3 separate regions of the Homo sapiens genome follow, and regions 1 and 3 are each linked to region 2. Evidence: fine-mapped expression QTL. A gene starts in region 2. Each other region holds a variant in brackets. All regions are shown on one strand. Distances are from middle to middle.

Evidence for each region. PIP is the estimated chance that this variant, and not a neighbour inherited with it, causes the effect. A credible set is the group of variants that fine-mapping cannot tell apart.
Region 1: its variant is the best candidate, but not a certain one, in a credible set for the expression of SLC36A1 in neutrophils (Naranbhai 2015, PIP 0.51).
Region 3: its variant is the best candidate, but not a certain one, in a credible set for the expression of SLC36A1 in skin (TwinsUK, PIP 0.87).

The regions. Positions count from the first base shown.
Region 1 is chr5:151,481,004-151,485,245 of GRCh38, forward strand. All of the region lies in intron 10 of SLC36A1 (solute carrier family 36 member 1), which reads left to right. Among named protein-coding and RNA genes, the nearest start is that of SLC36A1, 36 kb to the left of the region's middle. The variant T/G (reference allele first, on the strand shown) is at 2,523.
Region 2 is chr5:151,445,012-151,449,253 of GRCh38, forward strand. It overlaps SLC36A1 (solute carrier family 36 member 1), which reads left to right and starts at 2,592. Exons shown (of 11, transcript NM_078483.4): 1 at 2,592-2,802. RefSeq lists an enhancer at 2,572-2,621.
Region 3 is chr5:151,469,465-151,473,706 of GRCh38, forward strand. SLC36A1 (solute carrier family 36 member 1) reads left to right here. Exons shown (of 11, transcript NM_078483.4): 8 at 4,209-4,242. Among named protein-coding and RNA genes, the nearest start is that of SLC36A1, 24 kb to the left of the region's middle. The variant A/G (reference allele first, on the strand shown) is at 2,233.

The DNA of each region.
Region 1 (4,242 bases), 36 kb after region 2:
TGCCCAATTTTCCCCTCCAGCCTGGCTCAGCCTCCCTGTAGCATATGTCACACTTCCTGCCAGGTTTATTTCTGCAGCACCCTGCAGGAGACAGCAGTCTCTGATTCACAGACCTCATGTTATCCTTAGATGCCTCTTGGATTTTGCTTCACTTTTCCTGGCCCTGTCTGTGAGTCTCATCTCCCTTCAACAGGACGATGCTCAGAAGACACGGCTGCTTTTGGTCTTCAAGTGTGTGCAGTTGTTTTTCCCTTCTGTGATCTGTTGTGACTTAGCATTGCATTGTCATCCTGTTCAAAAAGGCAGCCCCCTTTATGTCTGAGAGCACTCGCCTCTCTCACCTTCCTTGGAGACTTTGAAGTAATTGTGGGACTCAGTAGAGGCCTTTCATGGCAGCAGCAACTTAAATGTATTTATGCGCGTTCATTTTGTTCTTGCTTCTCTGTTCTTTCAGATCTTTCAGCACCGTTGGTTAGTATGTGATTTTAGATCTTTAATTGATTTTTTTCATTTATATTCATAAATTTTAACAGCAGCTTCTTTTATTACTATTTCTGGTGTTTTCCTATCTTTTCCCCAACTTTTCCTCCTCCTCTTCACCCTCCAAAGGGAACAGGAGGAATTCAGTGTAGTTTCTTTTTTTTTTTCCCTCTTGGAATTCAACTTTCTCACCACTCTCCCCCATCCTCCAAAGATTACTATGGCTGATACGGACTTTGTGATGCTTAATTTCAAACAGTTGGAGAAGAGGGGGAGGGAAAACAAGTATTTCATAGGATAGTGCTCATTTTGTTATGATTTCATATCGGACAGTATCTACTTCCAGCCCATATTTTTGGAAATGCGGACTTAGCAGGTCACCTTATGTCCAGACCTTGTGTGGAAGAGGCTGGCCCCACCTGTGGAGTCTGGAGTTGTAGGATCAACGGTTTTTTAGATTTCTTTGGAGCAATAACCCATCCATCCTTCAGTGATTCATACTGATTCTCTGTGTCATTTGCCATGTGAAACATTTTACTTCAGTTTGCTATGAAAATTTCAGAAACCTATTTCTGAAGATATAATTACCTAAAATCGCATCATCCAAGAAGCCTGTTCAGACTGGAATGCAGAGCTGCAAAACATTCCAAGCAGTCGGATTTTTAGAGGATGAAGCTTCCAGGTCCAAACAGAGTAGCTTCTTAGTACCTTTGGGCCTTTCACACTTTTTAGTCTTGCAGCTACAGTGAAGAAGAGCAGCATCATTAATTAGCTGTGTAACCCTGCCACCCCCCACCCTGCATTCCCCGCCCAGGAACCCTCATAAGGCCTCAGGGTCCTCAACTGTAAGATAGGAAGGGTGTCTGACCTCTAAGGTTTCTCTCAACTCCAAAATTCTGTGATTCTGTATAGGTGCTTTGCGCTTGATTTTAAGTTTCTACACAAATATTACTCTAAAAAAAGAAAGTCAATGTAAAAACATTTGGGAATAAAAGAAGAAATTCCAGTATTCCACCAATTTAACAAAGTAATTTTTTTTTGCATTGTATCTTCTGTGTCTTAATCCTCATGGGTGCCTTGTAAAAATAGTTGCAATTGTAGTTTACACATAATTTTGTCTTTCACATTTTATTTAGTTTTATATCACAAATATTCATATCTTTCACTAATATTTTCATGACCTCGTGGTATTCCACTGTATTGGTGGATCATATTAACTAAGGTACTCCTTTCATGTTGGACATGGTGGTTGTTTCCCTTGTTTTCGTATTTTTTAAATTTATACCCCCACTAAGTCAAACTTTGTATACTGTCCAAGACTACTATGAATTTTAAAGGCATATTTATAGACATTTAAAAGTAACATGGTGAAACCCCGTCTCTACTAAAAATACAAAAACAAAATTAGCCTGGTGTGGTGGCAGGTGCCTGTAGTCCCAGCTACTTGGGAGGCTGAGGCAGGAGAATGGCATGAACCCAGGAGGCAGAGCTTGCAGTGAGCCAAGATCGCGCCACTGCACTCCAGCCTAGGTGACAGGGCGAGACTCCATCTCAAAAACAATAAAAATAAAAATAAAAATAAATAAATAAAAGTAACTTGGTAAGTTTTAACAGCTTTGATCATAATAAAATAGCAGCAAGAGCTCCCAGCACAGGAGCCATAAATGGCCAGCGTATTTCGTAAGTTCGCTTTTGTTCTTTTCAGTGCTTTGCTCTTGTTGTGTATAAGTCAGCTCTTTCTGATGCTGGTTCAAAACCACAGGCTCCAGAATCCAGTTCCTTCTGTGAACATGACTGTTGGCCTTATGTTGCTTCAGCAGTTTAAAAGCTCATATTCTTTGTGTCTCTTGACTCGAAGGGAAGATGTTTTGTAATACTGTTGGAGCCCTCTTGACTAATCATGTGGTCGAGCTGAGGTTGTCCTCTGTCCCCCCTTTTGTACACGCCACAGCTGAGCTGCTGCTGAGAAGTGTATAACTGCATTTGTTATACAAATGTCTTCCTTTTTGTCTGGGCTGGGGTCTTTGTGTGTGTGGGGGGGG[T/G]GATTAGGGGAGAGTAGGGAGAGGGCTGTTCCTGGCTGGCTGCTTCCTGAGATATCTACCTTGTTGAGTGTCTCTTCATAGGCACTTTAACTCACAGAAGACATTTAGTGCCAGAAGGGGTTTTATTTGCCCCACATGTCTGCATAGTCGATTGCTGCTTCTGGAGTTAGTTAAAGTCATTTTCCATGGTGGCAAAACAGATACCCGTGCTGTTGAACCCTGGGGGCTGCTGATGCTGATTTGGTTTGGACATCCTTCTCTTCTTCCCACTTTGTGTTAGTGGGAGGCTCGCTCTTCTTGCCCTCTGCAGTGTCACGCTTCATGTAGGGTTCAGCGGTGGTATGTGGTTCAGCTAGGACAGGAAGAAGGACTTCCCTTTGCAGCCCTGTGGTCCTGGCTTTAAGAGGAGAGAAATGTTCTTAAAATCTCTATTAAGGATATTTTTATTAGGCATGTTTATCTTATATAGTGGTGAAAACAAGAACAAGTTTTTAGATTACTTATAAAATATCATGATGAAGCGGAAGATCTTTGTCCAATCAGAGGAAAAATTCTGATCCCAATCTTCTGTTTCTGTTTCCACTTAACTCCCACCACAGAGTGGAGCATCTCTCTGACTCCACTTAACTATCATGAAGTGCCCATATGTCCTGCTAGGTCAGTATGGGAGAGGGTGGGGAGATGACAGACTCTCAGGGCTGGGAAAGGCTCTGATTTGTCTCCTGCCAGGGACTCATTTTCTCTGATAATAAAGGCCTCCTGTCTCTTGAGCGGACATCAGCATTTGTGGAGATGCTTGTGTGGCTGGGACTGAAGGAATAACTCACACTTCCTTTATCCATACAAAACCGAGTGGGTTAGAAGCTCCCTTTTGGGCAAGCCATGTGTTCGAGGCTTGGAGCCCCATCGCTTTGCTGTGCCACCCTCAGGCAGGACGTGGTGCTTCCCAGTTGTCAGTGAGGTGAGGAACATATCCCAGAACACAGTCCTAAGTGACTAACACTGGAGTGTATAGTTCCTTAGAATTTCAGAGTTGGGCGAGACTTCAGACATCACCCAGTTACCACATTTCACAGGTAAACGAATGAACTGAGGCTCAGAATAGTAAGCTGATTTGCCCTGCACCACTCAGCTTGTTATGGAGCAGGGACTGGTGATAATATTGAAGCATTTATTATTGGTTTTTAGAACGCTGAGTTCTTTACATGAGTGATATCGTTTGACCATCCTGTTTAGTAGTTGGGGAAATGAGTCTCAAAGAGTTTAGGTAACTAGCCACTGAGTGGTAGAGCTGAGGTTGGAGCCTGGGCATTCCAAATCCAGAGCCTACACCCATTCCTATACCACCCTCTCCCTGGGGCTCAGTTCTCCCGATTGTTACCTCAGTGCAGCTTCCACCCCACAGTAACACCTGGCACCATCACTGCAAGGATGACATTAGGCAGGGAGACCCAGACCCCAGAGAGGGCAAGTGTCTTGGTGTCGGTACCACAGCAGACCAGCTCTTTTGTTGAGCGTTAGATGACCTATGATGAGAATGCTGTTTTGTCATCAGCCTACAATTTTACCTCCAATTTTCTCCATATTCAACCCTCAAGGTTTGGGGGATGTCACCAACTCTATTTAGAAGCAGCTAAGGGCTGAAAACATAGTAGTTTTGAGTTTCAGGGAAATTAAAAGCCTAAACTTTTTGCACACTTCTCAAAGCCTTGAGATCGGT
Region 2 (4,242 bases):
CCTTGACTGCTACTGGATCTTGGTGGAAAAGCTTTCAGTTTTTCCCTATTAATTAAAATGTTAACTGTGTGTTTTTCATAAACGACCTTATTATGTTGAGGAATGTTCTTTCTATACCTAAACTATTGAGAGTTTTTTTTTATCAAGAAGGTATGTTGGGGTGGGGGTTAGGGAAGGAAAAGATGTTGGACTTTGTCAAATGCTTTTGCCAGGCCAATTGAGATAACCATGTGGTTTTCATTTTTCATCCTGTTAATATGATGTATTATATTGCTTGATTAGTGTATGTTAAACCAGCCTTGCATGCCAGGGATAAATCCCACTTGGTCATGATACATAATTTTTTTGATTGTTGTTGAATTCTGTTTGCAAATATTTTATTGAGGATTTTGTACCAATGTGCATTAGCGAAATCAGCCTGTAATTTTCTTTTCTTGTGGCGTCTTTCTCTGGCTTAGGTATCAAGGTGATGCTGGCCTCATAAAATGTGTTTGGAAGTATTCCCTCTAGCTCCATTTTTTGGAAGAGTTTAGTAACAAACCTTCTTCTTTGAATGTTTGGTAGAAGTCAGCTGTGAAGCCATCTGGTCTTGTTGGGAAGTTTAAACAGAAAACCAGAAAGTCAGATAGTCCCTGTCTCATCTTCAATCTCTTTATTTGTTATTAGTCTGTTCAGGCTTTCCATTTCTTCCTGATTTCAATCTTGGTAGGTTGTATTTTTCTAGGGATTTCTCCATTTCATCTGGGTTATCCAATATGTTGGCAAATAATTGTTCACAATAGCCCCATATGATTCTTTTTATTTCTGAAGCTTCTGTTGTAGTGTCTTCACTTTCATTTTTTATTTTATTAGTCTTCTTTTTTTTCTTAGACTAGCAAAGGGTACGTCAATTTAATTTTTTCCAAAAAATCAACTCTAGTTTTATTGATTTTGTCTGTTTTTTTTTCTGTTGTCTATTTGATTTATTTCTGTTCTGCTCTTTCTTTTCTTCTTTTAACTTTGGGTCTTGTGAGCTCTTCTTTTTCCAGTTTCCTGAGGTATAATGTTAAACTATTTAATTGGTCTCTTTCTTCTCTTTTAATGTAGGCATTTATTGCTATAAACTTCTCTCTTAGAACTACTTTTGCTGCATTCCATAAGCTTTGGTATGTTATGTTTCCATTGTCAATTGTCTGAAAATATTTTTTAAATTTCCCGTTTGATTTCATCTTTGACCCACTGGTTGTTTCGAAGCATAGGACTGGGTATGGTGGCTCACACCTATAATCTCAGCACTTTGGGAGGCCGAGGTGGGCAGATCACCTGAGGTCAGGAGTTTGAGACCAGCCTGACCAACATGGTGAACCTCGTCTCTACTAAAAATACAAAATTAGTCGCGCGTGGTGGCACGTGCCTGTAATCCCAGCTACTTGGGAGGCTGAGACAGGAGAATCGCTTGAATCCAGGAGGCAGAGGTTGCAGTGAGCCAAGATTGCACCACTGCACTCCAGATGGGGCAATAAGAGCGCAACTTTGTCTCAAAGAAAAAAAAAAGCGTGTTGTTTAATTTCCACATATTTGTGAATTTTCCAAGATTCCTCCTGTCATTGATTTCTAGCTTCATATTATTATGGTCTGAAAGAATATTAATATGATTTCAATCTTCTTAAATTTAAGGCTTGTTTTTTGGACTAGCATATGGTCTATTCTAGAGAATGTTTCAAGTGTGTTAGAGAAAAAATGTGTATTCTGTTTCTGTTGAATGGAAAGTTCTGTATATATCTGTTAGGTTCATTTGGTTTAAAGTGCAATTCAAGTTCATTATTTCCTTATTTTCTCTCTAGTTGCTCTATCCATTGTTGAAAGTGGGATATTGACCCTCCTACTATTGTGTTGCTATCTATTTCTCCCTTCATGGCCATTAATATTAGTTGTATGTATTTAGGTGCTCCAATTTTGCATGCATATATATTTACAGTTGTGTCTTCTTGATGAATTGACCCCTTTATTATTAAACAATGATCTTCTCTGTCTCTTGTGACAGTTTTTGACTTGAAGCCTATTTGTTACATAATTGTTAAAGGAAAAGTCTGTAACAAGGAGGTAAAAGGAGAAGCCTAGATAATACAATACTGAAATGTTGCCATCCATTTAAAAATGTTACTTTAAAAATTTGAATGTATTAAAAGATAATGTTGCCCTACCCCACAGTTCCATTTCCAGTAGCAACCACAGATGATAGTTTGTGTATGCTTCTGAAAAATTGGAAGTTTTAAAAATATGCATATTTCTTATTATAAAAGCAATACAAACTCATCGAGATGTGTAAAAGAAAATACAGCCAGTGTAAAAATTAGCAATATTTCACAAACCCACAACTCAAGGGACAGTGCTCTTCGACTGGACTCTGCCCCATGCCCAAGATCAATGCCCTGTTCAGTTCCTATTCGCAGTCCCCAGCGCCCAGGAACATAGTCCTTCCAGCAGTGGCAGTAATAGGTCGCCAGGTGGTGCTGTGGAGCAGAGCTCCGGAGCTCAGTGAGAAAAAAGGCGCGGCCGCTCAAGGGAGCACGTGACCTCGGCCTCTGGCGTGGGCGGTGGGATCACGTGATGAGGTCCGGAAGCGGCTGCCGGGCAGCAAAGGAGGATGGCGAGGGGCTGATACTGAACCCGGGAAGGGTGGGCTGTGCTGAAGCCAGAGCCGGAGCCGGAGCTGGGGCCAGAACCCGAGCAGTGAGTTCCTCCACTGGCTGCCGGCTGGCGGCGCTCGCCGCCTTGGGCAGGACCCACCTCGCCTTCCTCCCGGCGTGGCAGATGCTCCAGGTCAGGCACTGGATCCGCCCGGGCTGTGGGTCCGCGACTCCTTGGCGTCCCCGGGCCGCAGCTGCGGTACGACGCTGACACCCCTCTGTGAATTGGGCGAAGCGTGGAGATCCCTTGTCCCTCGCGCTATCTCCCTTGACCTCGTGGGGTTGGGATCTCACCGTCCTGTTTGACTGACAGGTGGGGGAAACTGGGGTAGATGGTGAAGATAACCCAAAGGACCATCTAGGGCGTCTTTCACGCTTCGCACAGGTCTCCCCGTTTCCAGCAAATGTCTTGCCCGCTGCGGGAGCGCTGCTTGAGACAGGCTCATAATGGGTCTTTGGGTCAGAACTGCAAGGACGCTGGGAAGTCGTCTGGTGCAGCTCCCTCCTAGGACAGTTGGAGAAACTGAGCCCTTACTCCGGGAAGGGGTAAGGGCTTGCCTAAGGTCATCCAGTGAGTTAATCGGAGACCCGGAGACCTGCGACTAGAATGCAAATGTTCCTAAGCTTCAGCAGCTGTTTGCTTTTCGCCACACCGCCTCCTGCGGGAAACTTCACCTGTGAAAAGGCACTCCTTTCTGTCCCTTTCTCTTTTAGTCCTCTCCCTTTTTAGCTGTCTGCATTTTCCACCGCTGGGGTTGGATTTGCTCTGGGTGTGGTTCCCTGTTTGTTCATTATTTTTCTGCAAACTCATCCTTCTGTAGGTTTGGTTTCTAACCTTCCTGCATTCTATGTAAGTCACACCAAAATATGAAATATGAATCGGAATGTGCTTCTGGGAAGATAGGTGGCTGAGCCGAGGTTGTGGAGAGCCCTGACGTTAACTTGAAGAATGTAAAGACCTTTGCTTTATTTTTTCTGTAACTTGTCAGATTTGGGATTGCTTATTTGGATGGACGTTTTGCAGTTATTTGAATTTTGCTGAAGATAGCATCATGGTGCAATGGACAGAACAGAGATTGGGGAATCAGGATATTTTGTCCTAGCTCTGCCGCTTACCTGGCAACCTTAAGTGACTCGCGTTTGGGTTTCTCAGTCTAGACAGTGATGGAATTGAATTCTTAAGGGCCCCTTCTGCTGTGATCTGGATGTTGTGCATCTTTCTAGGCTTGTTTTTTTGTTTGTTTGTTTTTAAATAGAGATGAGGTCTCACTATGCTGCCCAGGCTGATCTCAAACTCCTGGGCTCAAGTGATCCTCCCACCTTGGCCTCCCAAAGTATTGCGATTACAGGGGTGTGAGCCAGTGCCCCTGACCAGGGTCTGTTTGTTTTTTTATTCCGAGAGATTTTACCCGCTGTGTACACTGAGTATCAGCCTTGCAACAAGACTTAATCTAATTGTGTAGGAAGCAGTTTCCTCTGCTTATTCCTCTGTTGCTATAAAATCCTCCTCCTCTTTCTTCCTATCTCTGTATTATGTCTAAGCTAAATACTAACAGCTGAAAATGATTTTTAA
Region 3 (4,242 bases), 24 kb after region 2:
CCATTTATTTAACAAGTCCTCACTCAGTGGCTATCAGGCCATGGATAATTTTTAGTATTATTTCAGTATTAAGACAGTGAGATGTTCTTATACATTCCTTTTTGTGGACTTGTATAAATACTTAAGATATTTGTCTAGATGTGTAATTGCTGAAGAGTGTGCACTTTTGAATTTTTGTTATGTTACCAAGTTGTTTTTTCCAAAAGCTATTTCCTAATTTCATAGAGACTCCCTTCCACAGTATTTAAGTGCCCATTTTTCCATCCTTACTAATACTGGATGTATTAGTATTATTTATATTAGTATTCTTGATATATGTATGATATATTAGTATTTATATATAGTATAATTATATTAGTATTATTTTGGTCAGTCTGACAGGTGAATATTATCTCATTTTCATACAGTCTGCTTAACAGTGACCCAGTCACCCACTGATATAGTTTCCAGGAAGACAGTGGCTCATAAAAAGCAGGACTTCTTGTGCTAAGCAAATGACATTATCAATTTAGATTAACATTTTGCTCTGTGAGTATTGACTGTTTTTTCATCACATTAAGTCAGATGAGTGGCAGATATTGACTCTTCTGCAGAACTATTTTTTTAAACATAAAATAAATAGTTCTTCACGTCCCCTTTTTATGAGACTGGAAGGAGGGCCTGTGAATGCACTATAGACCATTTCCATTACCAAACAAGGAAGGGTAAATATTTACCCATGATTTCATGTTGTAATTAGAACTCTCAAGAGCACCTAGGATATACTCCACTGTACACTAAAGATGAATTGAGTGAGGCCACCCCCATAGACAGACACACCTGCTGCATTTACTTTTAAATCATTGCAGGTAGTCGGGCTGTGGTGGTTGCCATGATCAGAGGGCTGGGATAAGAATTTGGGTTCTTATAGCGTCTCAGTCCCAACCAACTGGTAGTATCCATCCAGAGTGATGTCTATGCATAGTACAACCAGGACACAGAGCAATGTCTGCATAAGGGCAGCCCTGCTGATTTCTTGAGAGCAATTCTGAGTCTTCCTCTGGGCTTAGCCAGAAGTTGTGCTGTGATCAAATAGTGCCGTCTGCCTGGAGTACAGCATGGGGGAAGAGGTTTGGCTGTGTTTTGATGTAGTCACTGCCCATAGTGTTGTAGTTGCTTCATTTTGATGTGTCATACAGCTAAAGATGCTCCCTTTAGGTCATTTTTGTTGCCGCTGCCTCTGCGGCTTGTTACTACTGTTCTGTTTTGGCATTGTGCCCCACTTACCATGAGGATTCCCCTACTGTTCAATGTTTCTGAATTTTTTCCCTAATCCTAAGCATGTACATGACTGTTCCTCTTGCCCCTCATGCACGTGCCATTGTAGGTAGCAGACCAAGGTCTTCCACAGAGAGCAGGTTCCTCTCTGTCTTCAGCATGTGGAGTCTCAAATGGAACAGTTCTGGGCAGAGTGCTTTGCACAGAGGGTGCTCCCAATAAATGTTTTATCACTGCATATCGTTGCTTCTGAGATGTATTTTTTCATAGTTATAACAGTTTCAGGATTGCAAGAGTACATCTCACAATCCATGTGTACCTTTAACAGCATTTTCTCAAAATACTGTTATTATAATTGATAATATGGTAAGACCTCACTTAATATCATTGATACATTCTTAGAAACTGCAATACATTAAATGTATGTATAGCGAAATCAGTTTTTTTCTCATCAATGTTATAACAAAACAGCGTTGAAGGAAGTGACTGTACGTCATTTCACTTAAAGTCTCAGTTTCCAAGAACTTATTGACGACAAGGGAGGACTTACTGTGTTGTAGAATTGAGGAGATATGTTAATAACGAGCTGATTTTAACATGTATGTTTCTTTATAAATTAAACTTTTCTCATTTAGTTGGTTGGGTCAGTAGCAATCAGTAAGTATGTAGAATAATACACTTCTTCTGCTGGCCTCATTCCCACAATATCCCCACATATGGATTGTGAAATTCCCAGTCTGATACTTGAATCTGATCTGATGTATGAATAAGAGCAGGAGTCATTCACTAACCAACAGATAGCACCTGTTTCCAATAACTTAGGTTACATTTGTGACTCAGGAATAATTACAGGCCACTCTTGCTCTCAAGTCCCATTGTAAAGGAAAAATACCTATTACCCTGTCTTCATTCCAGGTATTGAAATGCTTCTTACAAAGGGATCTAACAGATTTCTTAGCAGGGGCCCAGGGAAAC[A/G]CATTTATTTAATTTTTTTATTTTTTCAAAAGCAATATTACTGCTTTGAAATCTTTCAAAGTGAAGGCTGTTATAGAGCTTAATAATGGATCTCCTTTTACTTGCCTGAAATTATTCTGAAGCCTGTTAAGAGCATGCCCCGTATTATCCAAATAGCCATACAGTTAAATCAATTTTAAAACATTGTAAAAGGCTGTTTTAACATCAATTTTTATTTTAATTGAAGCAACATACACATGTGGTTTAGAAAACCAAATTGTAAAAAGACAGCAGCTTTGAATCCCTCCTCCCCACCCTGCCCCTTCCACACAGTCTGTTACTGGAGACTGTTGTTCGGTGGAGGATTTTGTGACTATACCTCTGTCTTAGTCAGGGTTCTCTAGAGGGACAGAACTAATAGGATAGATGTACATATATAGGGGAGTTTATTAAGGAATATTAACTCACGCAATCACAGGTTTCCACAACAGGCCGTCTGCAGGCTGAGGAGCAAGGAAGCCAGTCCAAGTCCCAAAGCTGAAGAACTCGAGGTCTGATGTTCAAGGGCAGGAAGTATCCAGCACGGGAGAAAGATGTAGCCTGGGAGGCTAAGCCAGTCTAGCCTTTTCACATTCTTCTGCCTGCTTTTTAATCTGGCCACTGGCCGAGCTGGCAGCTGATTAGATTGTGCCCATCCAGATTAAGGGTGGGTCTGCCTTTCCCAGTCCACTGACTCAAATGTGGCAACACCCTCACAAACACACGCAGGAACAATACTTTGCCTCCTTCAGTGCAATCAAGTTGACACTCAGTATTAACCATCACAACCTCCTTCCTTATACAACCTTAACATTGTACCTGCAGTTAACAGTTGCCCTTTTTCTGGCCCATTTTTTAAAGCATTCTTTTTGCTCCTCCTCCCCACATGTTCCAGCACTCCTGTTGTGTGCTTCTTGGTAATACTTTGAAAGTGCTCAAGTTCATTGATGAGAATTTTAAAAAGGAGAAGAAAAGAAGAGGAAAAAGGAAGAGAACCAATATAAAAATGTACCACTTTCTCTTCCCTTCCAGCTTTATCTTTGATGTTTATGTAGTTGTATCAGAGTGAATATATAAATTAAAATTAAAATTTTTTCTCACTAATATTTCGTAAGTAGTTTTTCATGTTCTACTTAGTTATCTCAATTTTTACTTTTTAATAGTGCATACTGGCCAGGCGCAGTGGCCAACGCCTGTGATCCCAGCACCTTGGGAGGCCGAGGCAGGCAGATCACTTGAAATCAAGAGTTCACAAACAGCTTGGCCAACATGGTGAAGCCCTGTCTCTACCAAAAATATACAAAAAATAGCCGAGTGTGGTGGCACGCACCTGTAGTCCTAGCCACTCAGGAGGCTGAGGCACGAAGAATTGCTTGAACCCAGGAGGCAGAGGGAGGTTGCAGTGAGCCGAGATCTCGCCACTGCACGCCAGCCTGGGTGACAGAAGGAGACTCTGTCTCTAGATAGATAGATAGATAGATAGATAGATAGATAGATAGATAGATAGATAGAATATATATTCTGTGGTTTAGCTGGTATGTTGTTAATTACTTAACTGATCCCTTGTTTGGAAGCACTTATATTGTTTTCAGTTACTTTATTAAACAGCTTTGCTCAGTGTTTTTCATCTTTTGATTTTTTTTCTACTTGAATTCAGTTTCTGGGGATGGGATTACCTAGTGAAAGAATGTGACTCTTTTTATGCAAGCCCCAACATTTGAGTTTTTAATAGTACCTTGGGCTTGTCTTTCCCCCAAACAAGTGGGTTTTTCTTAGCCTGAAGAGAAAAACATACAAAGGTTAAATGTCCCTAAATCATCTGTCAGGTATTAGACTTTCTTCCTTTAGAGAATCTTGGATTTGTTAAAAGGTATGACCTCTCCGATTCAGAGTTCAAATCTTGAATTTCTGTATAGCCTTTTGCTTTGTTTTGCTTTGTTTTGCTTTCTGTCTTTCAGAGGATCCCAGACCCCAGCCACCTCCCCTTGGTGG